Linked DNA regions of Homo sapiens. The protein of the gene in region 3 interacts with the protein of the main gene of each other region in a biochemical or structural test. Each region holds a gene or a part of one and is shown on either strand. Other genes may lie near its edges.

Evidence for each region.
Region 1: the proteins of SMAD3 (region 3) and EP300 form a complex in vitro, tested with the Homo sapiens proteins (5 studies listed by BioGRID).
Region 2: the proteins of SMAD3 (region 3) and SKI form a complex in vitro, tested with the Homo sapiens proteins (8 studies listed by BioGRID and IntAct).
Region 4: the proteins of SMAD3 (region 3) and TFE3 form a complex in vitro, tested with the Homo sapiens proteins (2 studies listed by BioGRID).

What each region holds. Positions count from the first base shown.
Region 1 is NC_000022.11:41,172,552-41,179,648, forward strand, and holds part of EP300 (histone acetyltransferase p300), read left to right. Parts: coding exon 1-112; intron 113-1,071; coding exon 1,072-1,233; intron 1,234-3,695; coding exon 3,696-3,977; intron 3,978-4,221; coding exon 4,222-6,405; 3' UTR 6,406-7,097. UniProt on the Homo sapiens protein: Functions as a histone acetyltransferase and regulates transcription via chromatin remodeling. Acetylates all four core histones in nucleosomes. Histone acetylation gives an epigenetic tag for transcriptional activation.
Region 2 is NC_000001.11:2,224,303-2,231,357, reverse strand, and holds the start of SKI (ski oncogene), read right to left. Parts: upstream 3,040-7,055; 5' UTR 2,592-3,039; coding exon 1,623-2,591; intron 1-1,622. UniProt on the Homo sapiens protein: May play a role in terminal differentiation of skeletal muscle cells but not in the determination of cells to the myogenic lineage. Functions as a repressor of TGF-beta signaling.
Region 3 is NC_000015.10:67,061,175-67,068,601, reverse strand, and holds the start of SMAD3 (mothers against decapentaplegic homolog 3), read right to left. Parts: upstream 3,001-7,427; 5' UTR 2,448-3,000; coding exon 2,242-2,447; intron 1-2,241. UniProt on the Homo sapiens protein: Receptor-regulated SMAD (R-SMAD) that is an intracellular signal transducer and transcriptional modulator activated by TGF-beta (transforming growth factor) and activin type 1 receptor kinases.
Region 4 is NC_000023.11:49,040,336-49,048,042, reverse strand, and holds the start of TFE3 (transcription factor E3), read left to right. Parts: upstream 1-4,685; 5' UTR 4,686-4,816; coding exon 4,817-4,932; intron 4,933-7,474; coding exon 7,475-7,588; intron 7,589-7,707. UniProt on the Homo sapiens protein: Transcription factor that acts as a master regulator of lysosomal biogenesis and immune response.

The DNA.
Region 1 (7,097 bases), on a different chromosome or scaffold from region 3:
TTATTTCGAGGGTGATTTCTGGCCCAATGTTCTGGAAGAAAGCATTAAGGAACTGGAACAGGAGGAAGAAGAGAGAAAACGAGAGGAAAACACCAGCAATGAAAGCACAGATGTAAGGGCATTGAGTTTCCTTTGAAACTTCTATCATGATTCTAATATTTAATCCAGAAGTGCACTTAAACTTTCAATTGGGTTTTAAAGCTTTCAGGTGTAAAAGAGCTCTTTAAGTTGGACAAGAAATATTGGCTTAGAGAGGTTATTAGGGTTCTGTTTCAGTGGTATTAAACTTTTAAAGCATCAGAGCCCCTTTTAAAATGGCATCTCAGACTTTGAGTAATGTGAAATGATAAAAGAAACTGAAGGAAATCCTGAAAAACTGATAGAAGATTACTTATCTGAAGGACTAGGTTATGAATATTATAGGCCTTGTGGGTCACATATCTCTGGCATATTTTCTGTCTTTTAAAAACACACTCTTTTTAAATGTAAAAAACCATTCTTAGCTATACAAAATAGGCCTGAGCCAGAATTTAAGTTACTAAGCCTGGCTTAGTAACCTCACCAGTTATTTCCCCATAGCATATCTCGAATTACCTCCATTGAATTTAACTTAACAAAAGGCACCCTTAAATAGTCTGTTAACAAACTCTTACAGCCTTGTCATTTAGTATTTGTAGGCTCATAACATTTTAGAATATGAGTGGAAGGAAATAAAACCAAGGTCTTCTGGCTCCCCACTTTGATACACTCTTCACTACCCCAAAGTGCCACCCCTTCCTTGTTCCCTAGCCCCAATCTGGGATACATTCAATCAATCTACAGGGTCTGCACATTCTGTGGCCTCTTCTAGGCAAAAAGCTAAAGGGCTGCCATTGCCTTAAAGATCACTGGGAGAAAATTAGGTCAAATAACAACTTTAAGGAGAAAGAATAAGTGAAGAGAACAGCTAGTAAAATAAGTTACAGGCATAAGATTATGATATCTAGTTTCAAAGAAGGGAGATATTCTGTGCTATTCCCAAATTACTTAACAAAAACCTTATTTTCTTGTCTCCTTTGTGCTACTCTGCAGGTGACCAAGGGAGACAGCAAAAATGCTAAAAAGAAGAATAATAAGAAAACCAGCAAAAATAAGAGCAGCCTGAGTAGGGGCAACAAGAAGAAACCCGGGATGCCCAATGTATCTAACGACCTCTCACAGAAACTATATGCCACCATGGAGAAGCATAAAGAGGTAAGATGCAGCCACCCAGAGTTGGGGAAAAACGGCAAGATTTCTGGCCAGGCATGGTGGCTCACACCTGTAATCCCAGCACTTTGGGAGGCCAAGGCGGGTGGATCACCTGAGGTCAGGAGTTCAAGACCAGCCTGACCAACACGGTGAAACCTTGCTCTACTAAAAATACAAAATTAGCTGGGCATGGTGGCACATGCCTGTAATCCCAGCTACTCAGGAGGCTGAGGCAGGAGAATTGCTTGAACCTGAGAAGCGGAGATTGCAGTGAGCCGAGGTCACTCCATTGCACTCCAGCCTGGGCAACAAGAGCGAAACTCCACCTCAGAAAAAGAAATAAGAAATGAATAAAAACACTGACTGTTCGCTGGGCGTGGTGGCTCATGCCTGTAATCCCAGCACTTTGGAGGTTGAGGCAGGCGGATCACTTGAGGTCAGGAGTTGGAGACCAGCCTGGCCAACATGGCGAACCGAAACCCCGTCTCTACTAAAAATACAAAAATTAGCCTGGCGTGGTGGCACACACCTGTAATCCTTGGGATGCTGGGGTGGGAGGATCACTTGAACCTGGGAGGCAGAGGTTGCAGTGCACTTACAGCCTGGGTGACAGAACGAGACTCTGTTTCAAAAAATAAAAAGATTTAACCTTTCTGAAAGTGAATTAGTAAATAGAATTGGAGAAAAGTTAAACTTCCACATATGGACTTACAACCCCCTTCTCAAAACTTTTTGAGTTATTTCATCATTTACATTGTTTAGTTGTTCTTGCAGTCATTTGGGAAAATAACTGGGTAAGGTTTTTTTTTTCTCTCTTTAATATCATATAATTGATAACGAAAGCCAGGAGAATTGAAGAGTAATTCCTCTCAGGGTTTGTCCAATGGTAGTAATCTCGATTGTTCAGTCAGACTCCTCATTTTACTATCTCGGTTCTCAGACATATAATCAAGTTCTTATAGGAAGTGGTAATTAAGTTGAGAGGGAAATGAAGGCTTGATTTCAGGTTGTAATTCCGTACCTAAAAATTGGTTAAACAGTCTCTTTGGGAGAGAAATAGTTAACAAAATCTTTTTTAGAGAGGAATTTGTTATAATGATGTTATCATGGTGAACACCTATATACATAGGTGTTCAAAGTATCTTTTCCCCCACTGCTCCCCCCATCACCACCCCTTTTTTGTTAGCCTAGAATAATGGGCTACGATGTAATAATGGTAATAACCATTATCTCAGCCATGCTAGTGAAATGGAAGGATTCCTGAGTTCTAATACGTTAGGTAATGATTATTAACAATTAATAGTTACTAGCTATTTCAAGCAGTAAGTAATGCCACAGAATCCTAGGCAGTTGGGAAAAGCCCTTAGAATATATTGTAATAGGTTTGACTTAAATTGTGGACACATTCCATGGCTGTTTAAATTTAGGTTGTAAATCCAAGTATTGGCCTGGTTGTAGGGTGACAGAAGCAGCGAACATTGCTGGCCAGAGACTGTGAGTGTGGCTGCCAGTGTGCACAGATGTTGAATAATCTGTTATCAGTACAGCAGTTTCTCACAAGTTCCTAATTTCTTAAGGGGATGTTTTACATTTTATTACTTTAATAGGTGTTTATAGTTATATACTAATTAATGTCAAATACATATGTAATACCAGCTTTTTATACCTTTTACACTAATGGTTATGAGAATTGATGGTTGTTACAAGTTTTTTCAAACTTCAATGAACAAGAATTTTATTGCTTTGTCAACAAAGACTAAGATTTTTTATCCATTCCATTCCCTTCCAAACCTGTAGGAAAAGTTACACAGGAAAGTTGCATAGGGGACCTTCATGAGTCCAGGCCAGTTGTTTTTCATACTGTCTCCATATTTGGATTTGTCTGGTTTGTTGTAATTAGATTGAGGTTAAACCATGGATTGCATCTTAAAGTAGACTGCCTTGAGGCAAAATGTCCACTGTGCATGGTGCTATACCTCACCCAGACCATTGTTACTCTGAAGGAGTTACTGAATGAAGGAGAAAAAAATCACAGGATGTGCATTTCAGTTCTATTTATAGTCAGTCTCAAGAGACCAAAGAGGTAAAGCAGGAAAAGGAACAGGAGGCGTATGGTGGTGAAACTAACTCAGCATTCGCCAGTCTCATTGGTGCTCAGCCTGCTGTACCTGCTCACACCTGTAATCCCAGCACTCTGGGAGGCTGAGGCAGGCAGATCACTTGAGCTTAGGAGTTTGAGACCAGCCTGGGCAACATGGCGAAGCCTCGTCTCTACAAAAAATGCAGAAATTAGCCAGGTGTGGTGGTGTGGGCCTGTGGTCTCAGCTATTCAGGAGGCCATGGTGGGATAATTGCTTGAGCCCAGGAGGCAGAGGTTGTAGTGAGCCAAGATCACGCCACTGCATTCCAGCCTGGATGACAGAGCGAGGCCCTGTCTCAAAAAAAAGAGACTGTCTGTTTTTCAGGTCTTCTTTGTGATCCGCCTCATTGCTGGCCCTGCTGCCAACTCCCTGCCTCCCATTGTTGATCCTGATCCTCTCATCCCCTGCGATCTGATGGATGGTCGGGATGCGTTTCTCACGCTGGCAAGGGACAAGCACCTGGAGTTCTCTTCACTCCGAAGAGCCCAGTGGTCCACCATGTGCATGCTGGTGGAGCTGCACACGCAGAGCCAGGACCGCTTTGTCTACACCTGCAATGAATGCAAGCACCATGTGGAGACACGCTGGCACTGTACTGTCTGTGAGGTAGGCACCGGGTTGTGGGAAGGAGGAGGTGAGCTCCGCAGGGTTGTTCTGAGGGGCCATGCAGCCACGTATTTTATAGAGGCCTGTGGGATGCTAGGGGCTTGGCCTCGTGTTTGAGGGGCAGAGCTGAAGAGGCTAGTTTTTGTTCTACGAAAGGGGCTTTTCTAGCCCAAACAATATCTAAAATACTTTTGAATGACTTAAATCTTGGAGAGTTTACGTGCACCTCCTGTTTTTTCCCTAGGATTATGACTTGTGTATCACCTGCTATAACACTAAAAACCATGACCACAAAATGGAGAAACTAGGCCTTGGCTTAGATGATGAGAGCAACAACCAGCAGGCTGCAGCCACCCAGAGCCCAGGCGATTCTCGCCGCCTGAGTATCCAGCGCTGCATCCAGTCTCTGGTCCATGCTTGCCAGTGTCGGAATGCCAATTGCTCACTGCCATCCTGCCAGAAGATGAAGCGGGTTGTGCAGCATACCAAGGGTTGCAAACGGAAAACCAATGGCGGGTGCCCCATCTGCAAGCAGCTCATTGCCCTCTGCTGCTACCATGCCAAGCACTGCCAGGAGAACAAATGCCCGGTGCCGTTCTGCCTAAACATCAAGCAGAAGCTCCGGCAGCAACAGCTGCAGCACCGACTACAGCAGGCCCAAATGCTTCGCAGGAGGATGGCCAGCATGCAGCGGACTGGTGTGGTTGGGCAGCAACAGGGCCTCCCTTCCCCCACTCCTGCCACTCCAACGACACCAACTGGCCAACAGCCAACCACCCCGCAGACGCCCCAGCCCACTTCTCAGCCTCAGCCTACCCCTCCCAATAGCATGCCACCCTACTTGCCCAGGACTCAAGCTGCTGGCCCTGTGTCCCAGGGTAAGGCAGCAGGCCAGGTGACCCCTCCAACCCCTCCTCAGACTGCTCAGCCACCCCTTCCAGGGCCCCCACCTGCAGCAGTGGAAATGGCAATGCAGATTCAGAGAGCAGCGGAGACGCAGCGCCAGATGGCCCACGTGCAAATTTTTCAAAGGCCAATCCAACACCAGATGCCCCCGATGACTCCCATGGCCCCCATGGGTATGAACCCACCTCCCATGACCAGAGGTCCCAGTGGGCATTTGGAGCCAGGGATGGGACCGACAGGGATGCAGCAACAGCCACCCTGGAGCCAAGGAGGATTGCCTCAGCCCCAGCAACTACAGTCTGGGATGCCAAGGCCAGCCATGATGTCAGTGGCCCAGCATGGTCAACCTTTGAACATGGCTCCACAACCAGGATTGGGCCAGGTAGGTATCAGCCCACTCAAACCAGGCACTGTGTCTCAACAAGCCTTACAAAACCTTTTGCGGACTCTCAGGTCTCCCAGCTCTCCCCTGCAGCAGCAACAGGTGCTTAGTATCCTTCACGCCAACCCCCAGCTGTTGGCTGCATTCATCAAGCAGCGGGCTGCCAAGTATGCCAACTCTAATCCACAACCCATCCCTGGGCAGCCTGGCATGCCCCAGGGGCAGCCAGGGCTACAGCCACCTACCATGCCAGGTCAGCAGGGGGTCCACTCCAATCCAGCCATGCAGAACATGAATCCAATGCAGGCGGGCGTTCAGAGGGCTGGCCTGCCCCAGCAGCAACCACAGCAGCAACTCCAGCCACCCATGGGAGGGATGAGCCCCCAGGCTCAGCAGATGAACATGAACCACAACACCATGCCTTCACAATTCCGAGACATCTTGAGACGACAGCAAATGATGCAACAGCAGCAGCAACAGGGAGCAGGGCCAGGAATAGGCCCTGGAATGGCCAACCATAACCAGTTCCAGCAACCCCAAGGAGTTGGCTACCCACCACAGCAGCAGCAGCGGATGCAGCATCACATGCAACAGATGCAACAAGGAAATATGGGACAGATAGGCCAGCTTCCCCAGGCCTTGGGAGCAGAGGCAGGTGCCAGTCTACAGGCCTATCAGCAGCGACTCCTTCAGCAACAGATGGGGTCCCCTGTTCAGCCCAACCCCATGAGCCCCCAGCAGCATATGCTCCCAAATCAGGCCCAGTCCCCACACCTACAAGGCCAGCAGATCCCTAATTCTCTCTCCAATCAAGTGCGCTCTCCCCAGCCTGTCCCTTCTCCACGGCCACAGTCCCAGCCCCCCCACTCCAGTCCTTCCCCAAGGATGCAGCCTCAGCCTTCTCCACACCACGTTTCCCCACAGACAAGTTCCCCACATCCTGGACTGGTAGCTGCCCAGGCCAACCCCATGGAACAAGGGCATTTTGCCAGCCCGGACCAGAATTCAATGCTTTCTCAGCTTGCTAGCAATCCAGGCATGGCAAACCTCCATGGTGCAAGCGCCACGGACCTGGGACTCAGCACCGATAACTCAGACTTGAATTCAAACCTCTCACAGAGTACACTAGACATACACTAGAGACACCTTGTAGTATTTTGGGAGCAAAAAAATTATTTTCTCTTAACAAGACTTTTTGTACTGAAAACAATTTTTTTGAATCTTTCGTAGCCTAAAAGACAATTTTCCTTGGAACACATAAGAACTGTGCAGTAGCCGTTTGTGGTTTAAAGCAAACATGCAAGATGAACCTGAGGGATGATAGAATACAAAGAATATATTTTTGTTATGGCTGGTTACCACCAGCCTTTCTTCCCCTTTGTGTGTGTGGTTCAAGTGTGCACTGGGAGGAGGCTGAGGCCTGTGAAGCCAAACAATATGCTCCTGCCTTGCACCTCCAATAGGTTTTATTATTTTTTTTAAATTAATGAACATATGTAATATTAATAGTTATTATTTACTGGTGCAGATGGTTGACATTTTTCCCTATTTTCCTCACTTTATGGAAGAGTTAAAACATTTCTAAACCAGAGGACAAAAGGGGTTAATGTTACTTTAAAATTACATTCTATATATATATAAATATATATAAATATATATTAAAATACCAGTTTTTTTTCTCTGGGTGCAAAGATGTTCATTCTTTTAAAAAATGTTTAAAAAAAAAAAAAAACTGCCTTTCTTCCCCTCAAGTCAACTTTTGTGCTCCAGAAAATTTTCTATTCTGTAAGTCTGAGCGTAAAACTTCAAGTATTAAAATAATTTGTACATGT
Region 2 (7,055 bases), on a different chromosome or scaffold from region 3:
GCAGACACACCCTGCTCAACCGAGATCCTCTGCCATCAGCTCTGAAGACAGTGACGTGAGCGTGTCCCAGCAGCTCAGGCCTTGGCCACAGGTGACCCACTACGCAGCCTGCACGAGCCCACAATCCCCCCCGACATGTGGCTTCCTCCAGCCACAGGCACTGACGAGGGTGCGGCCACCCCAAAAAGAAAGGCCCCAGCCCACAGGGAGCGCCATCGGGCCCACCCCAACCAACTCCCCGTGTGACACGAAGGGCCCCAGCCTGCTACGTCTGTCTGCAGCTCTGCCACGAGCATCCTTCCCCAGCCCACAGGTCTGCAGGCGGCTGCCACCTGAGCCCTGGCCTGGCAGGGTCAGAAGCGCGCACACACAAACACACACATGCACACACACATGCACCCTCCGCAGCCCCCTCCGAGCAGAGGCGACAGTCCCTCGCTTCCATCCACAGCCCCTCCTCCCCACGATCTGACACTCTGCTGGAGGGGCGCCCAGAGAAAACCGGGCTGGAGCATCTATTCACAGATTTAGAAAAAAAAAGTTTGATGCAATAGCTGAATTAATTAGGCCTCCCAAGAATAGCTGAGCCAATGCAGCATTCTGTGTGTGCAATTTAATAAGCCTGGATATTTAAAAGAAAAGTTACAAATACTTGGGGAGGTACGCAACGGAAAGTTCCTGAGGACCCCACTGAGTAATTTCGGCACCTCGTGGCCTGGGAGCTGCCCATGCCGGATCCCATAGATCCTCCAACTGGCAAACAACAAAGCCAGGCCAGCAGCCTCCCTCTCCGGCGCACCCCTCTGCGTTTCAGAGGGAGAGAAGGAAATGGGTGAGTCCAAAGCAAATCGCAGGCCGCCAGTAACTCCAGCACGCGGGCCCAGGAGCCTGCTGACCAGGCCCCTCAGCCGGGTGCCAAATGGCCCTCACCCCACACGGCGGACTCTGGGATTTGGTCCCTGGCAGGCCCAGGGAGACCAACCAGCACAGTGCTGGAGCCGCCAAGTCTCGGGCCCCTGCCACTGAAGCCTGGACACCTGGCTTCATTTTGTGTCTGTGTCCCAAAACTTCAAGGCACCAAACAGGGAGCGGGAGCCAGTAACAAAACCAGGCCTCGCCTCACCCAAGCTCTGTCTCCTGGGGCCCAAAGGCAGGCAGCCCTCCGTCTTCGAGGCTGGGTGCCTTCGGGGCGAGGACAGCCACCTTCACCCCAACCCCAAGAAAGACCTGGGCCTGAGGCATCCGGGCCGTGGCCCAGCTGGACCTAACTTCCCTGACCTGGGGCAGGCCGCTTTCTCGGGAGCATGAGGCCTGTGCCTTCCTATCTGGGCAATGCCTGTGGGCCTGCGGGCCTTCCCCACACACCAGGCCTGGCCCCCCACCCCACCGCCACAGCCCGCACTCCAGGCTCGTCCTGGGGAACGGGCAGGAGGGCCTTCCTACCAAACTCTCTGGCCCTGCCAGTCGGAACACTCTGAATTTCCCTAAAACAAAGCGAAGACTGGAGACATGGGGCACGGCAGAAGCACAGGTCCCAGCCTTCGGAGACCAGAGCCTGTAGTCCAGAAGGGGCCCCCACCCCAAGCGCATCCTCCCCAGCTCCCAGGCCTGGGGCCACTCACCCGGGGCACCCGCCGCTTGTACTTGTTGCCATAGTCGAATTTCTCCTTCACGTCGTCCAGGCAGCGGCCGAGGCGCGCCTGCTCCTCCTTGCCCGTGTAATCCTGGCTCAGCAGGATGTAGGCCCGCCAGTTGGCCGAGTCGAAGCCCCAGTGGCAGGTCCGGTTCTCCAGGGCCTTGTGCGAGTGCACCACGAACTTGTGCGGCGGGTACATGAGGCGGCAGTCCAGGCACTGGATGCAGGCGGCGCTCGGGCTGCTGTAGAGCTCGGGCACCAGCAGCCCCTTACACTTGCCGAAGCACTCGTGGTACACGCGGACGCTGCGCTCGCTGAGCTCCAGGCCCAGCGCCAGGCTGGCGGCCAGCTCCTTCTTGCAGGGCGGCGGGTAGGCGCCGCCGTAGAGCAGCGCGTTGCACAGGCGCTCGGCGTCCGTCTTGGTGATGAGCCCGCACGAGGGCGCCGAGAAGGGCAGGATGCCCATGACTTTGAGGATCTCCAGCTGGTCGGCCGTGCAGCGCGAGCAGTAGATGTGGAGCTCGTCGCACACCGCGTTGATCTGCTGCAGCGAGAAGTCGCGCAGCACCGAGTTGAGAATCTGCGGCAGACACAGGCGCTTCTCGCCTCCCACCACGAAGCACGAGATGGTCTCGCCTTCCAGTACGGTCTCGCAGCGCTCGGTGGAGCGGTCGGACGGCATGAAGAAGGGCCCGGGCAGCACGGGCGGCGGCGGCTGGATGGCGGGCAGGTGCAGCACGGGCGGCGGCTCGGTGGCTGCGGGCACCGGCGCCGGCACCGCGGCCGCGCCCGCCTCCTTGGCGCTCTCCTTCTTGTAGGCCTCCTGCGCCCAGCGCGCCGAGAAAGCGGCCGGGCCGCCCAGCGAGCTCATGGAGCTCAGGTGGAACTGCTCCAGCGTCTTCTGCAGCCCCGGGTGCGGCTGGAAACAGCCGCGGCCGCCTGCCGCCGCCTCCATGGTGCGCTCCGGCTCCCCCGGCCGCTCCCGCTCCCGCGCGCCCGGGCCCCCCCGGCCCCCGCCGCCGCCCCGCGCGCCCCGGCGGCGCCCGCGGCCCCGACCCCGGCCGCCCCCCGCCGCCGGCTCACGGCCGATCACGGCCGCGGCCTCGCCCGGGGGCGCGAAGGGGAAGGCGGGCGGGGCGAAGGGGTCCCGCCGCTGGAGCCCGCCGCCGCCCGGGCCCGGCGCCACATCCACGCGCCCCGCGCCGCGCCCGCCGCCGCCCGGGCCCCCCGCGCGTCCCCCGCGCGCCCCCCGGGCTCTAGGCGCGGGGCATGCCCCGGCGCGCGCCGCCAACGCCAACGCCAACGCTCGCGGGCCCGGGGCTCGCGGGGGGCGCGCGGGCAGGTGCCGGCGCCGCGAGGCGCGAATCGCCGCGGCGGCCGAGGCCGAGGGGCCCGGGAGGAGCGGGGGCGCGGGCGCGGGGCCCGCCGGGCCGTCCTCGCGCGGCGCGCCGCCGCCGCCCCGCTCCTCCCACCGCGAGGCGCCCGCCCGGCTCGTCCCGGCGGCGCTGGCCGGCCGCGTCGCGCCCGCCGCCGGCCCCCGGCCCGCCCGCCCGCCGGCTCCGCGGCCCGCCCGCCCGGCTTCCGGGGCGGCGGAGGCGCCTCTCGCCCGCGGCCCTCAGAGCGCGGCGGCGGCGCGGGGCTCGGGGCGCTCGGCGCACATCCTCCCGGCGGCTCGCTCCGGCTCGGACTGAGCGCCCGGCGCTGAGCTCACGCCGCCGCCGCGCCGCCCCGCCCCGCGCCGCCCGCTCCGCCCCGCGCCGGCCCCGCCCCCCGCGCTGTTTGTTGCCGTGCGTCCGCCTCAGCCCTAGCGCTGGCCAAGAATGTGACCCGCTCCCCAGCCGGGCTCTTCCAGGAACGCGCGCTCCCCGCCCGGACTCGGCCGCGCTCGGCTCCGCTCGCCCGGGACTCGGCCACGCTCGGACCCGCCCTGCCATGACTCGGCTCCGCTCGGCCGGGACTCGGCTACGCTCGGCCATGCTCGACTCCGCTCGGCCCCGCTCGGCCCCGCCCGCCGAGGGCCGCTGGGCGCGGGCGGAGGCGGAGGCGGCGGTGGCGCCCGGGGCCCCCCTTCCGGCCGAGGCCGCTTCCTGCGCCGCTGGGAAGGCGCCCGTCTCGCCGCCGTCGGGGCCCAGAAACCCACAGGCCCCCGCCACGACCGCAAACCAGCTGGGGGCGGCCGGGGGGCCACGCCACGCACCCGGGGTTCTCCCAGGGTGGGACACCACACAGCGGGGAGGCCCCGGACGCCTCTGGGGTCCCACACACTACCGGGACGCCACACGGTGACCTGGGGTCCCACACACGAGGGGGACAGCGGCCACGCCCAGGGACCCTGCGCCGAGACGGGCACCGCGTCGCGTGACCCTGGCGGCGCAGCCCGGCGGCCCCCGCTGCGCCGTGGCCGGTGGCTCGGTGGCCGAGTGTCCGCGGCTCCCGGCCGCGCCGGCCCCGCCCCGCCCGCCGGCCCCTGGCGGAGTGTCCCTGCTGCGCGGGCCGGGGGCTTCGGGCCTGGGAGGGGCGGCGCCCGGTGCCCCAGACGCAGCCGGTCTGCCAGCCACTCCTGCCAGGTGGCTTATCAGGACTTCGGCCCCGCGGGGCCCGGCGTTCGGGCCGGCGAGACCCCTGACCTCCGCCCCGGGGCCGTGGAGCGCTGAGACGTCTTTCGGGGTCGGATCGGCCGGCCCTCCACGCCTGGCCACGCAGTGGGAGAGACTCAAGCCTTGGCAGGGCGGGGAGCGGGAAGCCCGGGGCCCCGAAGTTGGACAGTCGGCCGGGTGGTCTCCAGGGGAGGCAGCTTCCAGCGAGGCCTGCGGGCGCAGGGACGCAATGGTGTGTTTGGGGAGGGGCAGGGCTCGGTCTGTGCTCGCCTGAGGCGGAGGGACATGCCCCACGGGCCGGGGGTGCCCAAGCTGGCCTGGGTGCTGGGCGGAGGCGAGAGGGCCACGCCGCTGCAACCTGAGTGACCTTCAGCTGGGACCTCCTGCCCCTCACTTCCCCAGTGGAGGCTGGAACCTGCCTCAAACCAGCACTCCTGGGCGCAGTTCCTATCCTGGGGGAGCCGGCCCGGAGTCCCTGTGCAGGTCTTGGCCGGACCTGCGGCAGGGCAGGTGTCTAGAGAGGCAGCCAGGACCTACCTGTAGGTGACCCCAGGGCGGCTCCATACTCCCTCTCTCCGCTGCCTTGGGGGTTGTCTCCTTGTCCTCACACTCCACACTGTCCCCCGACTCTTCCCATTCACTCCGTTGGCCCCCACAATTGGAGGCCAGGCTTTCTCTGTGTGTTCACACACCAGAAAGCTGGGTAAGAAGATCATTTCCTTAAAAGTGATATTTAACCCGGCAAGGTGGCTCACGCCTGTAATCCCAGCACTTTGGGAAGATAAGGCAGGCGCATCGCTTGAGCCCAGGAGTTCAAGACTAGCCTGGGCGATATAGTGAGACCCTGTCTACAAAAAATAATTTTTTTTTTTAATTAGCCGGGCATGGTGGCCTGCACCTGTGGTCTCAGCTACTTGAGAAGCTGAGGTGGGAAGATTGCTTGAGCCCAGAAGGTTGGGGCTGCGGGGAGCCGTGCTTGAGCCTCTGCACTCCATCCTGGGTGATAGGGACACACCCTTTTTTTGAGACAGACCCTGTCTCAAAAAAAAAAAAAGGGTCAGCCTCAGTGGCTCATGCCTGTAATCCCAGCACTTTGGGAGGCCGAGGCAGGCGGATCACGAGGTCAGGAGATCGAGACCATCCTGGCTAACGGTGAAACCCCGTCTCCACTAAAAATGCAAAAAATTAGCTGGGCGTGGTGGTGGGCGCCTGTAGTCCCAGCTACTCAGGAGGCTGAGGCAGGAGAATGGCGTGAACCTGGGAGGCGGAGCTTGCAGTGAGCCGAGACTGCGCCACTGCACCCCAGCCTGGGCGACAGAGCGAGACTCCGTCTAAAAAAAAAAAAAGGATATTCAGTCCAGACGCAGGGGCTCACGCCTGTAATCCCACCACTTTGAGAGGCTGAGGCGGGTGGATTATTTGAGATCAGGAGTTGGAGACCAGCCTGGCCAACATGGTGAAACCCCCTCTCTACTAAATATACAAAAATCAGCCGGGCATGGTGGCACATGCCTGTAATCCCAGCTACTCGGGAGGCTGAGGCAGGAGAATCGCTTGAACCTGGCAGGTGGAGATTGCAGTGAGCTGAGACTGCACCACTGCACTCCAGCCTGGGCGATGGAGTGAGACTCTGTCTCAAAAAAAAAAAAAAAAAAAATAGAAAAGGGACTTATTTGTTTTCCTGGAGATAGTTTCGTTGGCCCACGTTTTGGACAAAACACAGCTAGTGTTGCACTTGACGTTGTCACTTCCTTCCATCTGGATTTGAATTCCATACAACTCAGTCAAATTGTAACTCAGAGAAGGTGGTTGCAGCCAGGCCTGCTGGGAAGTGTCTCCAATCAAGCAGAGAATTCCTCTGGCTCCTCTGGTGGACCAGGGGCTCTGTGCAGGGCCCCTAGCATGGGCAGTGCCCACCCAGAGCCTCTGCTTCCTTCTGTGCCTCTGGCTTTGCAGGGTCCTAGCCAGGGACCAACACTTTGTCCAGAGTGCGGACCCCTGGGAAGTAGCCATAGGTGTGCCATGGAGTGAAGGTGCGGGGACAGGTGAGGGCCTCCAGTTGGTCTCTGAAGCTACCTCCACCTTTGTGGACTCTTGAGACTTCCTTCCCCCAATATGTCAGAGCTTCCAGAGGAAGGCACCCACCCCACCAAGGGTCAGAGCAGCCACGCCTAGAGGGAGCCACCAGGGTCCACTTTTCTTCCTGAGCTTGGCAGGGAAGAGGGTGGGGGGTGTCTCCCGCCTGCTGGCCTTCCACCCTCCAGCCCCGCCCAGCAGCTGCCCAGGCCAGTCGCCCACGCGGGCCACCATACTGGCAGGCCGCGGGTTAAGGCTGCAGGCACAGCCACAGCGCGGAGTAGGGTGGGATGGACGTGGTGCCTGCCCAGAGAAGCCCTGGCATGCGGGCAAAGGCAGGGACCTCCCAGCTTTCTCCCTGGCCCCTACCACGGTGACAGGCTTGGTCAGCTAGTCATGAGTTTGTCCCCTTGTTCGATGAGCTCCTACCACTGTAGACACTGGGATCAGGGTAAGGAGACCAGGTTGTACCCCGTGTGGTTCCATTCTGGTGTGAGAGACAACAGTCAATCAACAAACCTGCTAGTACGGGAGCGAGATCTTTCAGATCCCCAAAAGGCGCGGAGTGGCTGGGGCTGGCTGTAGGCAGGGAGGGCCTCCTGGGAGGCTGGCCTTGGAGTTGAGACCCCCACCTTAAGGAGCCAGCAGTGTGGAGATGAGTTGGATGGCGCCCCAGGACCAGAAAGAGGAAGACACTGGCAAAGCAAGGGGTACCCCAAGCTTTGGGGGAACTTGGAAACCTTGGT
Region 3 (7,427 bases):
AAGATGCCTCAGTCCTAACAAAGTCACGAGAAGGCCACAGGGCAGGTTGGCTTGAACTCTCAGAATCATCCAAAGCGTTCACACGTCTTAGGCTTCCAAAGTCTCAGCAGGACTTTGGAAGAGGAAAAGGCAGGCCAAAGGTATGGCCCCACAGAGGACAAACTCCTACCAAGGCAAGGGAAAGCAAGGCCTCTCTGCCAAGCTATCACCAGCCCAAAGATTAAAGAAGCAACCGCACATACAAAGATCCACAGGGCCCTCCCCAAGCTAACACAGCTTTAGCATTCAGCAAAGAATGTATTCAGGATCTTCAAAGTATAAAGCAGCATGGGGCAGCAGAAAGAGCACATTCAGGCAGAACCCCATGTCTATGACTCAAGCCTTTTCACCTCTCTCTTTTAAGGTTTCCTCTGCTTTAAAAATGTGATAATCTTAAGCCTAACAACCTTATCTACTTTCCATGGCTGGTTGCTTGCTTGCTTTCTGTCTTTTTTTGAGGACCTCAGAAAACCATGTGAAAGTGCTTTGTAAACTGTGAAACACTTTTCACAGCTGCCTGTTTTACAATTGATACCACTTTTTTTCTTCTGTTTCAATACATAAAGCACTTGTCTTCAATGCACCCAGGCAGATAAGGAGAAGGTAGGTTTGGCAGACCCCTCCCCAGAAAGAGAAGTAGCATACTCACCCACTCTACCCTAGCCACCCCCACGGAAGGAATACAGAAGAATTAACAACCAGAGCTGGAACCAAATCCCAGGTCTCTCTGACCATCACATCACACCACCTCCTCTGAAGTCAATTCTGGCTCCCGATCACACGCCCAGAGACTTCCCCAGACAGCACACCGCCTTCCCTCCCCCTTTATTGACTGGATCCACCCAGTTAAAAAAAATTTAAGTCCGCACTCCCACCATATGTGGCATTTATTTCCAGGGGAGGCCTGCCCTCGGTTCCCGTGGACAGATGTTGCTTTGTGCCTGCCTGACTCGCCTGGCAGCCCCTGTACAACTGCCCCAAGCAGGTGGCCAAGGATGGAGTCCACCCTGGCCCAGGAGCAGGGATGACAATCCCTTTGCGGCTGACAGTCCCTGGTGCTTTCTACTCATTCCTCGGCAGCCTGGGACCCCCAAAAGAGCCAGCCCCCAACACACACGCTCTCTCCCTTGGTTCAGCATCAAAGGAGGCTGAGAGGTAGAGACAGGAAGCCAAGGTACCCGCACCCCCAGTTCCCAGCCAGGCACATCTAAGCTAAGGAAGGCCCTGGGGGAGTGAAGTCACTGACCCCTTCTATCAGCCATCTGTGGGCTCCCGCCCGACCTAGCTAGCGCGCAACGGGAAGGATAAAGGAGATCCAGACAGATGGCAGCGCGCTTTGGGAAGGAAGGCTCTACAGGAATGCGAGGGCCGATGCGAGGCCCACTTTGGGGTGTGTTTTGTTATCTGCCCGGCTGCAGCCTGCCCCTCTCCCTCGTTCTGCACGGTTTCAAAATCTCTTGGACCAAAAGAAGGGCAAAAGAGTCGGGATGGGGGGGTGGGAGGTGGGAGAAGACCCTATTTTCCGCCACTTGTCTCTCCCATTTGGAAGTCAGAGCATTGCACTGCAACCAAAGTGCGTGCATGCTCAGGGGGCGGGAGACTGGCACAACCGAGTCTAAAAATACTCGATAAAAATGCTAATCCCGAAGGCAAAGAAAGAACGAAGAAGGAATCTGTCAATCACTAGGCTCCCGCTCCTCACCCACAGCCCCAGCTGTACGGACCGCATTCCTGTAGAGGAAAGTGGGGAGACCCGACTGAAGAAAAGAAACGCAAAGACACCACCACCTCCACGAGCGCGGGCCGCGGGGGCGGGAGGCGGCGGCGGAGGAGGGGCTCCGGCCCGCGGAGCCGAACAAAGCGGGCCTCAACTTCCAGCCCCAGCTCCCCGGAGTGGGGGCGGCCGAGTCCCGCAGCAACCCGCTCTCCCCTCCCGGAGGTGGAAAGGGAATGTGAGGTGTGGAAGCCAGAGTGCCGCGTGGAAGCCTCGGGCTCTGATCTTTGCAAATCAGAGATGGTTTTGTTTGGGGTCCCCCCACCCCCTTCCTGCCCGCGCTCTCCCACTCTCACACACACGCACCCACACAGTCTCACTCCCTCCCTCTCTCTCCCTCTTCCCATCTCCAGCCCCACTGGGTCGGCCCCGCAGTGCCAGGGGGCTGGGCCGGCGTGACCCCGGGTCCCCCCCGGGCGGGCCCCCACCTGGGGATGGTGATGCACTTGGTGTTGACGTTCTGCGTGGTGATGGCCTTCTCCAGCTCGTCCAGCTGCCCCGTCTTCTTGAGTTTCTTGACCAGGCTCTTGACCGCCTTCTCGCACCATTTCTCCTCCTGCCCGTTCTGCTCGCCCTTCTTCCAGCCCAGCAGGCGCTTCACGATCGGGGGAGTGAAAGGCAGGATGGACGACATGGCTGGGGAGGGCGCGCGGGCGGCGAGGAGCGCCCCCGGCGGGGCTGGGCTCGACGGGACGCCGGGGGCGCAGAGGGGAGCTCGGCCGGGGCCTGCCGCGGTCGCCCAAACTTCGCCTCAACTCTCGGCGAAGTTGCCGGGGCGCCGGGCCGGGCCGCGGCGCTGCAGCCTGCGGGGCTCGGCGCGCGGCCCTGCGCCCGGAGCGGCTCCCACGGCGAAGAGAAGAGCGGCCGGGCGGGCGGACGGCAGCAGTGCAGGGTCGGGAAGGCCCCGAACGCGGGGCGGAGGCGGCGGCCGCGAGACTCCAAGTGGCAGCAGAAGTTTGGGTTTCCGCACGGGGTAGCTGTTTGGGTGCCGCCTCCGGGAAGGAAAGTCCAACCCCCGGCCAAACTTCGCTCGCCTCGCTAGCTTTGATGCGCAGATCCCTCCGCCTCTGCGGCCTCACCGCCCCGCCACCCTCCTCCTCCCGGCTCGCCGCTCGCTCGCTCGCTGGCTGGGCCGGCCCGGGGCGTGCGCCGCGCTCCCGCTCCCGCCCGCTCCCAGTCTGTGTTTCATGCAAATCCGCGTGCAGCCTCCTTTCCAAGTGCTGTCACCGCCCCCTCGCCGCCGGGGCTCCCCGCCTCCTCCCCCGCGCCCCGCCACCTCCTCCCGCGGGCGCCCTGCCCGCCCCCTGCTCCGGGGAGGGCGCCCGGCCGGCCACCACCCCGCGCCCAGCACGCCCACGTGGGCGACCCGGGCGGCGGCAGTCCTGGCTGGAGCGCGCGGGACCCTGCGCGGCCCCGACCTGAAGTCGGGCGGGCGCGGGGAGGAAGTCCTGGGAAACACGGCGAGAGGGGCCTCGGGCGGGAGGGCTGAGCGCGGCCCGTGGCGTCCGCTCTCGGAGTCCACACTCGGGCGGCTCGGTTGGAGTTGCGGGCCGGAGAGGGTTGGACTCGCAGCAAGTAAGCGTCGTCCGGACGCGAGTGCACCCTGGAGAGGACCCGAGCCCGAGAGGGGGCGCGCGGAAGGCCCGGGCCCAGGAAGTTGGGGCCCGCACTTGGCCTCGCGCTTGCTGATCCCCGTCAAGGCCCTTGGCCGGCGCCGGCGCCCCTGGGCTGTTTTTATTCTCTAGTCGGTGAGATCACACCGGCCGAGAGCCTCGGGAACGTGTGCGGAGGAGGAGGGGGTGAGAAGTGGGTCCTCAGAAGTGGAGAGCTGGGGACACCAGTGACAACCTGGACAATGGCTGGAGCCAGGGGTCTCTTGAGCCTTGTGAACCGAGTGCCCGGCAGAAAATGAGCCTCAAGGACATCTGTTGAGTTCTTGAAGGAATGAATGGAGGGGCTTTCGAATTTATCTTTGAAAGAAATTTACATAACAGGGTGTTTGTTGCTGGATCTCCTGATAGAGAAGGATCGGAAATTTGATAATTGCCAATAAATGGAAGAGAGTTTTGTTTCCAAAGCAATGAACTCACAAAAAAGTGGGGCAAGACAGGAGTTTTCGGAGAGTTTGTGTATTCAAAAAAAGCAAAACAACAACAAACCAATTGGCACATTGGGGAGCTCCGCGGCTTTTCTCCCCACCAAAAGAATTCAGGGGCGTCTGCCCGCAGGGCCCTCGGCGGTTTTCAGGAGCTACTCCAGGCCCCTCGGCCTTTCTCTTGCTGCCTCCCGCAGCCGACTAGCCGGTGTCTAAGCCCTTTGTTTGTTTTTAACAGCAGGAATCTCCCACCCCCACCCCTGCTTTGTTAAAAAAAAAAAGTTATCTGGAACCCTCAAGTGGGTGGGGAGTTACAAAGCCCTGTGAGGTGTGGCGGAATCCACAGTCAGCCCAGAAGCGGCAGGGGCCCTTGCCTTGCTCCGGAGAACCGCCTCCCACAAGCCAATCCGCAGCTGCTGCTGCAGAAGTGCGCTGTGCTCCTCACCCTCCTCTCTTCCTAAATACCCGCCTGAAAAGGAGAATACGTGAAAGCCAACTGAGGCTTGACAACCTGGCTTCCGTTCCTTGCTGGTCCTCCTGTTAACGCGCTGCCGCTGTGGTCTTAGGTTTCACTCTCCTCTTCCCGTCCGTCAAGAGAGACAAGGATGACACAATCCACATTTATTGATTGCTTTCTTCATTCCGGGTAGTCCGCCTGCTGCCCTTTGATTCAGTCTTAACAGTGGTTGGTGAGGTAGATGTTCCTGTGCCTCACGTTTACGGAGGCACAGAGAGATTACATTACTTACTCAGGGTTCCAAGTGGCAGAGCTGGAATTTGAACCCAATACTTTGTTGAAGCCTCAGTCTCCGATCTTGAGACTGCACCCAGCTGCCTGGGTCACGGAAGGCAAAGATGACATCATTGATCGAGCTCTTTGCAAAACAGTTCTCTACACGGGCACACTGTTGTAACACTGCAAGGATTATTTGCTCACCTGTAAAATGGGGCTAGAGGTAGCTTCCCTCGCGATCTCCTAGGGTGGCTGTGGGAAGCTCATGTGAAAAGGTTTGCATTGCTAATGCCATGAAAAGTGGTGGAGGGAGGTCAAATAAGTTTAACACACATTGACGGAGCAGCTCTGAGTTGCAGCCCTCCTATTCAGTTCCTGAACTTCCAAAATAAAAGACTAAGGTTTTCAAGGCGTTCACAGCCTAGAGAAGCATCAAAGGGTGGGGATGAGGATGATGTGACTGAGTGGGCAAAGATGGGCAGGGGCCTTGCAGTCATCATCGTCCAGTAAAGTGTTAATCTTAACCTGAACAAGTCCAACCATTGAGAGGTAGCCAAAGAAAGTAAGAGGGGCTCAGGATCCATCAGTGACTGGCCTGGCTTCCAATCCCGGCTCTTTCTCTTCTTCCCCTTGGGCAGCGTCCGTTCTCTCCGCTGTAAGAATGGAGCAAGCGGTTCTCACTGTGCAGAGTGGTGGATCCAGAAAGAGCATTGTAACTGTCCTCCTGTAGTTCAAGTCCTTTATGTTACAGAGAGAGCAATGTCTGCTGAAGGAGAGTGATTTGCACTGTAGAGGAAGAGCGTCAGAGAGATTTGAGGATTACATGTAGTAGAAGGACCTGACAGGTACTTCACCCTGTAAAATCATGGTATGGGAAGGGGCCCTCATTCAGCCCTCTCATTTTCCTGAGGGGAGGAAATAACTAGGCAGCCAGCTAGTTAGTGTGGCAGAACCATGCTTCCCTGCTGGCATCCGTGTGACAAGAACAGCTGTGCATGCAGAAAAATAGTGCTGGACCCACCTACAAGTCTAATAAGTGCCATTTCTGGGCTAGTTCTTTCTCCTCAGGCCTGTTTCTCCAAGAGAAGTCCCTCCACTGGGGGACTAAGTCCAGTTTCAGAAAGCTCTGAGGAGGGCTGAGGAACTGATTCTTCCAGTGCTGAGAAGACCCTGCATGTTCTCTTGATCTTGACTTTGGGCAGTGAATGGGTGGGCTGCTCTGGATGGGTACAACTCTGTTCTGGCACCTGGTCTTTTGGGGCCCAGCCATACCTGCTTTTGCAGAGGTTGTCCTTGGGAGGGAAACATTAGCCCAGTTAATTTTTCACCATGGTAAGTGCAAAGTTCAGGAGAGGTGGGATGGAAGTGGAGACAGCAACTGTTTCCCTGGGAATAGTCCATCCTATGAACAGTTCACCTCGTGAATAGACACATCAGAGGGTTTTCGTGTATTTGGAGTGGCTCCCAGGTAGGCCAGCCACTCCAAATACACGAAAGAAACAAACACCTGACTTCAATTCTGATTATTTTCCCATTAGCTTAAGGGTATTTAATCAACAAGTAGTGAATCTAGAAAAAGCATTAAAATCATCTTCATCTTACACAGACAGAAAGTGATGTCTGTAAGGGAAGGTGATTTGCACTGTGAAGATAAGTAGCCAAATCAGGACTAGAACTTTTATCAGAGTGCCCTCACCTAAGAGAGAGCCTCTGTCTACAGTCAGATCTCTACCTATAGCTCTTTGTAACACCTTACACGTGTGAGCTCTTCTGTGGCACCAGAATGACCTGGGTTAAACTTCTACCTCTTCCACTTCCGGCTGTGTGACTCTGGGCACGTTCCTTAACTCTGTGTGTGTCAGTTTTCTCATCCATAAAATGTGATAATTACAACACCTTCTTAGGATTGCTGTATGGAATCAGATTAAATCATATAGAAAGCTTGGTACAAGCACATAGTAGGTTCTCAATATACATGGATGTGATTCATGCATACTATAAAGTGCTATGCAAAAGTGAGAAGCAATGAATTCCATGTACATAAAACAAATGTATAGATTTTAAACACAGTTCCAACAGAAAATAGTAAGACACAGAGGGAAAGGAATAGCATAATGCTACTATGTAAAACAAATTACATATACACAAAATAATTATATACATTTTGAAAGAAGTTATACAAATAAAAAGATATACATTGAACCACTTCACATCCATTAGGATGGCTATTATCTTTTTTTCTTTGTTTTTGAGATGGAGTTTCGCTCTTGTTGCCCAGGCTGGAGTGCAATGGTGCCATCTTGGCTCACTGCAACCTCCGCCTCCCGGGTTCAAGCAATTCTCCTGCCTCAACCGCCTGAGTAGCTGAGATTACAGGCATGTGCCACCCACGCCTGGCTAATTTTGTATTTTTAGTAGAGACGGGATTTATCCATGTTGGTCAGGCTGGTCTCAAACTCCTGATCTCAGCTGATTCCTCCCACCTTGGCATCCCAAAGTGCTGGGATTACAGGCGTGAGCCACCGCGCCTGGCCAGCTATTCGCTTTTAAAAAACAGAAAATAACATGTTGGAAAGGATGTGAAGAAATTAGAATCCTTGCACATTGCTGGTGAAGATGTGAAGTAGTGCTGCCTCTGAGGAAAATGCTGTGGTGTATGTATGGCAGTTCCTCAAAAAACTGAGCAGAATTACCATATGATCCGGTCATTCTGTTTCTGGGGATATACCCAAAAGAATTGAAAGCAGGGACTACGAGTATTTCCACACCCATGTCCGTAGCAGCCT
Region 4 (7,707 bases), on a different chromosome or scaffold from region 3:
AGCCGGGCGTGGTGGCGGGTGCCTGCCTGTAGTCCCAGCTACTCGAGAGTCTGAGGGAGGAGAATGGCTTGAACCCAGGAGCCGGAGGTTGCAGTGAACCAAGATCACACCACTGCACTCCAGCCTGGGTGACAGAGTGAGACTTTGTCTAAAAAAAATTAATTAATTAAAAAAAAATTCCAGGGATTAGGACATAGGACATAAATATATTGGCAGGGGTGGAGGGGATTATTCAGCCTACCACAACATCTTATGACAGTTAACATCTGTTCCTTAAACCACCTTACAGAAGGCCGAACTCTATCTCTAAAAACCCATCTTCCTATATTCCCTCCAACTGTACCCCAAACCATCCTCCACCCATTAACCGTATTCCCAATCCACCCTCCCAATAGCTCCCACCTGCATTCTTAAACTGTCTTATTGAAGCCCCATTCCTCCCAAAGACCTTCAAATGATCCTTCAATTGCCTGCAAACTGTCCTGTTGTAGAACCCAAACTCACCCCCAAGCCACCTTCAATCACCACTCATATCTATCCCTAAATACCCCCAACTTCACCATCCAGCTGCCCTCCCACTTCGCTCCACATGTCCCCTTCACAGCACCTTGAAGTTGTCTTGCAGTGAAACCCCAGATAAGGTTGCAGTGAGCCGAGATCGCACCACTGCACTCCAGCCTGGATGACAGAGCGAAACCCTGTCTCCAAAAAAAAAGAAAGAAAGAAAGAAAGGAACTCCAACTATATGGCAGGGGTGCAAGTATTGAGAAAGTTGAGAATGAGATATTGATAGAAACTAGGGCCGGGCATGTGGCTCATGCCTTTAATCCCAGCGCTATGGGAGGCCGAGGCGGGCGGATCACTTGAGGTCAGGAGTTTGAAACCAGCCTGGCCAACATGGGGAAACCCTGTCTCTACTAAAAATACAAAAAAAATTAGCTGGCCGCGGTGGCGGGCACCTGTAATCCCAGTTACTTGGGAGGCTGAGGCAGGAGAATCGCCTGAACCCAGGAGGCAGAGGCTGCAGTGAGCCGAGATAGTGCCACTGCACCTCAGCCTGGGTGACAGAGCGAGATTCCATCTCAAAAAAAAAAAAAAAAGAGAGAGAGAAAAAGAAAAAAGAAGTCCGGGTGCAGTGGCTCACGCCTGTAATCCCAGCACTTTGGGAGGCCGAGGCAGGCGGATCACGAGGTCAGGAGATCGAGACCATCCTGGCTAACATGGTGAAACCCCGTCTCTACTAAACATACAAAAAAATTAGCCGGGCATAGTAGCGGGTGCCTGTAGTCCCAGCTACTGGGGAGGCTGAGGCAGGAGAATGGCGTGAACCCGGGAGGCGGAGCTTGCAGTGAGCCGAGATCGTGCCACTGCACTCCAGCCTGGGCAAGAGCGAGACTCTGTCTCAAAAAAAAAAGAAAAAGAAAAGAGAGAGAGAAACCCAGAAAGATGCAGGGTAGGCATATCATGCAGGGTGTCATGGGATATCACTTGTCATGGAGACATTTGAGATGCGTGTGTGAAGCTGGTGTTTGTAGGATTGGGATGTGTGACAAGATAATTACTCTGTGGCTCTACTGCTATAAATATTTGTTGCCAGTCTGTTGTAAGTCTTTTAACTTTGTAGCATCTTTCATCAGACAGTATGTAGTTTTATTTATTGATTAATTGATACAGAGTCTCATTCTGTCGTCCAGGCTGGAGGGTAGTGGTACAAACACGGCTCACTGCAACTTCAAACTTTCCAGGCTCAAGCGATCCTCCTGCCTCAGCCTCCCAAGTAGTTGGGACCACAGGTGTGCACCACCATACCTGGCTAATTTTTCTTTTCTTTTCTTTTCTTTTTTTTTCTTTTTTTCTGAGACAGAGTCTCACTTTGTCCCCAGGCTGGAGTGCAGTGGTGCAATCTCGGCTCACTGCAACCTCCGCCTCCTGGGTTCAAGAGATTCTCCTGCCTCGGCCTCCCAAGTAGCTGGGACTACAGGCCAGGCGCGTGCCACCATGCCCAGCTAATTTTTGTATTTTTAGTAGAGACGGGGTTTCACCATGTTGGCCAGGATGGCCTCAATCCCTTGACTTTGTGATCCTCCCGCCTCAGCCTCCCAAAGTGCTGGGATTACAGGCGTGAGCCACCATGCCCGGCCTAATTTTTTAAAAGTTTTTTTGTACAGACGGGGTCTCCCTATGTTTCCCAGACTAGTCTCAAACTCCCGGGCTCAAGCAATTCTCCCACCTTGGCCTCCCAAAGTGTTGGGATTACAGGTGGGAACCACCCCGCCAGACCCTCCTCTTTCTTCTTTTGTAAAATTAGCCATTCTTACATGTTTGTTTTTGTTTTTTTTGAGACGGAGTCTAGCTCTGTCTCCCAAGCTGGAGTGCAGTGGCACGATCTTGGCTCACTGCAACCTCCACCTCCCGGGTTCAAGCGATTCTTGTGCCTCAGCCTCCCTAGTAGCTGGGATTACAGGCGCACGCCACCATGCCTGGCTAATTTTTTTGTATTTTTAGTAGAGACAGGGTTTTGCCACGTTGGCCAGGCTGGTCTTGAACTTCTGACCTCAAGTGATCCACCTGCCTCGGCCTCTCAAAGTGCTGGGATTACAGGCGTGAGCCACCGCACTGGGCCATTGTTTTTGTTTTTGAGACAGAGTCTCACTCTGTCGCCCCAGGCTGGAGTGCAGTGGCGTGATCTCGGCTCACTGCAACCTCCGCCTGTCGGGTTCAAGCTATTCTCCTGCCTCAGCCTCCCGAGTAGCTGGGACTACAGGCCAGGCGCAGACCACCACGCCCGGCTAATTTTTGTATTTTTGTAGAGACGAGGTTTTGCCATGTTGGCCAGGCTGGTATCGAACTTCTGGCCTCAAGCGACCCACCAACCTTGGCCTCCCAAACTGCTGGATTACAGGTGTGAGCCACCGTGCCCGGCCCATTCTTACATGTTTAAGGCATCATAGGAATTTTAACATTGGATCTACAAGTTCCGTTTTAGAGTTTTGATTGGTACAATTGGTAATGTATTCTTTTTTCTTTTTTTTTTTTTTTTGAGACTGAGTCTCACTCTGTCACCCAGGCTGCAGTGCAGTGACACTATCTTGGTTCACTGCAACCTCTGCTTCCCGGTTCAAGGGATTCTCCTGCCTCAGCCTCCCGAGTAGTTGGGATTACAGGCGCCCGCCACCACGCCCGGCTAATTTTTTGTATTTTTAGTAGAGACGGGGTTTCACCGTGTTGGCCAGGCTGGTCTCAAACTCCTGACCTCAGGTGATCCACCCGCCTCGGCCTCCCAAAGTGCTGGGATTACAGGCATGAGCCACCGCGCCCGGCCAGAAGTCATCTTTATTATGTAGAGGTTTCCCCCTTGTACGAGATGGTTGTGTGTGAGTATGGATGAGTTTACGAAAGCAACTGACAGACCTGTGAAATAATGATGCCAATACAGGAAGGTCCAAGGTAAATGAAAGCCCGGTGAAATTCCTGGAGGCGCAACTCAGGGTGGGGTCTTGGGATGTCAGGAAAGAGGAAGGGAAGGCTGTAGGTCTGGGTGTTTTGTGAGCTATTTGCACCTGAGGATATATGAGTGAGACCCTCCGCCTTGTGCGAGCCGGCTTGCATGCGTCTGGCATACAGAAGCGCTCAGTGAATGTTGAATAAGTGAACAAATGAGTGAATCAACTAATTTTGGGAAGCTTCTTGTATGCCAAACAACCTGCTAGCACTTTTCATACATTATCTTTAATCCTCAGAACAACCCTGCCAGACAGGTATTTTGACCCCCATTTAACAGGCCAGGAAAGCTGAGGCTGGGAGAGGGGAGGTCCCCTTCCCTATTCAAACCTGGATCTTTGTGATTCCAGAAGTCGTCATTCACCGAAGGGACCAGATTCATTCACCCGTCAAGAATTTATTAAGCACATATTGCGCAGCGCAATGAACATAGTACAACCGCTCTCGATGGCATGGAACAGGCGGAATACTCCCGGAAGACCAGCTGGGCGGCTGGACTGCGGACAGCGAAAGGGGGGGGTTTCTGGCCCGCACCTTCAGGGAATGTAGCTGCCTCTGCCTCATAGTTATGGCTTTGGCTGAGAGAGCACAGCCAGATCGAGGTTGGAGCGCGGTCTAGGGCTCAGATATTACAAATATTGGCCGAAAGAGGGCGCGGTTCCGCAGCTAAAAGCTTGGCCAGGAGACCCTCCGTGCGCCGACTGGCCATCGATGCGCAGGCGCAGAGGACCCAAGGAGCGGCTTAATATTACCTTGCAGAGGGATAATTTGAGAAGAGAGGGCGTGGCTCCGAAAGCGACGCAAACATAGAGGCGTGGTTCAACCAAATCAACCCTCGCCTATTTGTCGCTGCCCCTGAGGGCGTGGTCTGGGTGCTGCTTCTCGGAATGAGGGCGGGCCGAATCGCGTTTTTCCTCCGCGTCGGAGGCGTCGCTTAGGGTGGGCCCTCGAATCGCCGTTCAGCGATTGGCCGCCTCGCTAATGGGTCGTGGCCAGACGGGCCATCCATCCCCAGTGCGGTCACTTCCTGTGGAGTTTCCCCATCCCTGGGAGGAGGGAGGAGGGGGAAGAAGACGAGGGGGAGGAGGGCGGTCGTCCGGGGTTAGGTTGAGGGGGGGCGTCGGTCCGTTCTGGGCGGGGGATGACTCACAGCCCATCCCATCTCCCCGACGCCGCCCGCCCGCGCAGTGCTAGCTCCATGGCTTAGCGGAGGAGGCGGCGGTGGCGAGCTGGGGGGAGGGGGGACTCTTATTTTGTTAGGGGGACCGGGCCGAGGCCCGACCGGCCTGGCAGGGCTCGCCCGGGGCCGGGCGTCATGTCTCATGCGGCCGAACCAGCTCGGGATGGCGTAGAGGCCAGCGCGGAGGGCCCTCGAGCCGTGTTCGTGCTGTTGGAGGAGCGCAGGCCGGCCGACTCGGCTCAGCTGCTCAGGTGCGGGGCCGCCTGGGGCTGGGAGTGCCGACTGGGGCTCCCAGGGGCCTGATCTCGGGGGCAGTGGGGGCCCCGGACTGGGATTGGAGGCCCTCGGCCTAGCCTTGGAGGACGTCGGGGCGCCCGTCTTGGGGGGGCACCTAAGGAATCCGGCAGTGGCCTGCTTGGATTGTGGCTTTATTAAAGGAGTCGTGGGAGTGCATTAAGCGGGGTCTGGGTCAGGTTTGGGGAGCCCTTGACTGCGTCTAGAGGGGCCTATTCTGGAGTATCCAGAAACTGGTCTGAGATAGCTGAACTTGGTAGACAGGGTCTCTGATTAGAGGCTGAATTCGGGGATTTTCAGTCGGACATGAGGGGAATGAATTTGAGGGGACACTGTCAGGTGAGGCACTGGTTTTAAGGGAATCCTAGAATCTTTTTTCCCTCAGTGTGGGAGAAGGGGTCCTGAGGGACAGAAGTGCTGTCTTGGGAGCTTGGTGCCTCTCAGTGACTGGTTGCTGTGTTTGGGGATAACATGAATCTGGAGGGATTTGGAGGTATCTCAGATATGCTGCCTGGGACCAGCCTTGTGAGTGCGTGTGAATGAACAAGAGAAGCAACATTCAGCAAGACTTGACCAGAATAATCCTTTCCCCTCTGCCCGCCTACCCAGCTGGGGCAGATCCCAAGGATAGTGGAAAAGCCCTCTTCCCACACCTGTTAAGGGCCTGAATGGAAGATAGACAGCCAGGCAGAGGGCGATGATGTTACCTCTTAGCTCAGAGGCCTCAGACCTTGTTTGGGAACCCAGAGGAGGCTCTTGTTCATGCTGCTACTCGCTCTAGCCTCTCAGCCCTTCCCACTCCCTAGCCCCACACCCCTTTTCTTTTTATCTTCTTTTCGATCTCCGAGCTCCTGGGGGTAATCTTGAATCTGTCCATAGAGCTGGAACGAGTACAGATTGCACCATCCCTGCCTGGGTGGATCCCCTCTGGCCTCTTCTCATCCTTACTTTCATCAATGGGCTTTGGAGCCCCAGCCCTCCCTGCTCACCCCAGTGCCCATCTCTTCCAACTTCTGTGCAATGGGTGTGTGAGCCCTGGGTGGGGGGGGGTCTTTGCCTCCTTTGTGCCTGGGATTGTGCTGAGCTCAGTGGCTCGCCCGAGCTTCCTCTTCCCAACTTCCTGGGTGGTTTTAGGGCTCCATCTGAGGGTGAGGAGAGGAAGGAAGACAGATCCTTGGGGAGGGGAGAGGATTCTTGTCAAGTGAAGTCACCAGCAATCTCTCAGCATTCTAAATGTTTAGCTAAATTGAAGGATGCATATTCATCCACGTGTGTGTTAACTGTCCCTTGCTCTCTGGGGCTGAGCAGAGCCTTTCTGTATATCGATTCACCATCTTCTAATTCCTCTGTAACAACCTAGATCATCGCAGTAGTGGACATAGTTAAAGGGATGGGTGTATATGGCTTCTTATTTTGTGCGCCAGTGGGTGTTAGTGTTGGGGGTGTGTGTGTGTTTTGATCTATCCAAAAAAACAGGAGAAGGCTGGGCAGGCTCCTCCGGTAAGAAAAGAATGCTTGTATAAAGTGGATCAACCACCCAAATTCTCCCTCTTGTAAATCCAGTCTGTTGGAGCGAGGGGAGCCTTTGATATTTCTATTTTATATTTAGGCATGTGTTGGCATCCCATGAACTCTGGCTGGGGCTGGGAGAAACTCATTTGTGAAATGGTAGATCTTTACGTCAAGTGAATTATTTCCAGTTCTCTTTGTGATGCATTCAGTTTGTGTTACAAGGGACTGTTATGCTGAGGGATGCCCCTACTTGCTCTGTGTGTGTGTGTGTGTACACACATATACCTGGGCTCACATTCAGCTGTAAAGAAAATAGCAGGGGGTTGGCCGGGCGCAGTGGCTCACACCTGTAATCCCAGCACTTTGGGAGGCCGAGGCAAGCGGATCTTGAGGTCAGGAGATCGAGACCATCCTGGCTAATACGGTGAAACCCCGTCTCTACTAAAAATACAAAAATTAGCCGGACGTGGTGGCGTGTGCCTGTAATCCCAGCTACTCGGGAGGCTGAGGCGTGAGAATCACTTGAACCCAGGAGGCAGAGCTTGCAGTGAGCTGAGATCGCACCACTGTACTCCAGCCTGGTGACAGAGCGATACTCTGTCTCAAAAAAAAAAAAAAAGTAGGGGGTATGGGGGCTGGGAGAACTCTGAATAGGAAGTCAGGAATCCTTCTATAAAGTGAATTGTTATTCCTAAATTCTGTTTTCCTCAAACCCAGGTTGTTACAGTGTGGGGGTTGGGATGCAGGCGTTCTTATTATTCTGACTCCTAAGGGACTATGAGTAACACAGTGGGGAAGGGAAAGGGGGATGGGGGAAGGAGGTGGGAATTCATGGTGGTGTGGTACCCAGCAAGGTGGCCAAATATGAGGGGCTTGTACCCTCCTCTTCGTTCTCCCCCCCTCTCTCTCTCTTTCTCTGTCTCAGGGGAGGGCTGGGGAATAAGGTCCTTCATTCAATCACTGACCACCACTCCACCTCCCCCTCAGCCTGAACTCTTTGCTTCCGGAATCCGGGATTGTTGCTGACATAGAATTAGAAAACGTCCTTGATCCTGACAGCTTCTACGAGCTCAAAAGCCAACCCTTACCCCTTCGCTCAAGGTATGTATGACTTGTCTATCTGATTCCCCTCCCAATTCCTCAGCCCTCCTCTCCCCTCTTGATGGGCAGAGGCCCTCAGTACCAGCCCAACCCATTCTTTCACCAGCCTGCGTTTTCTA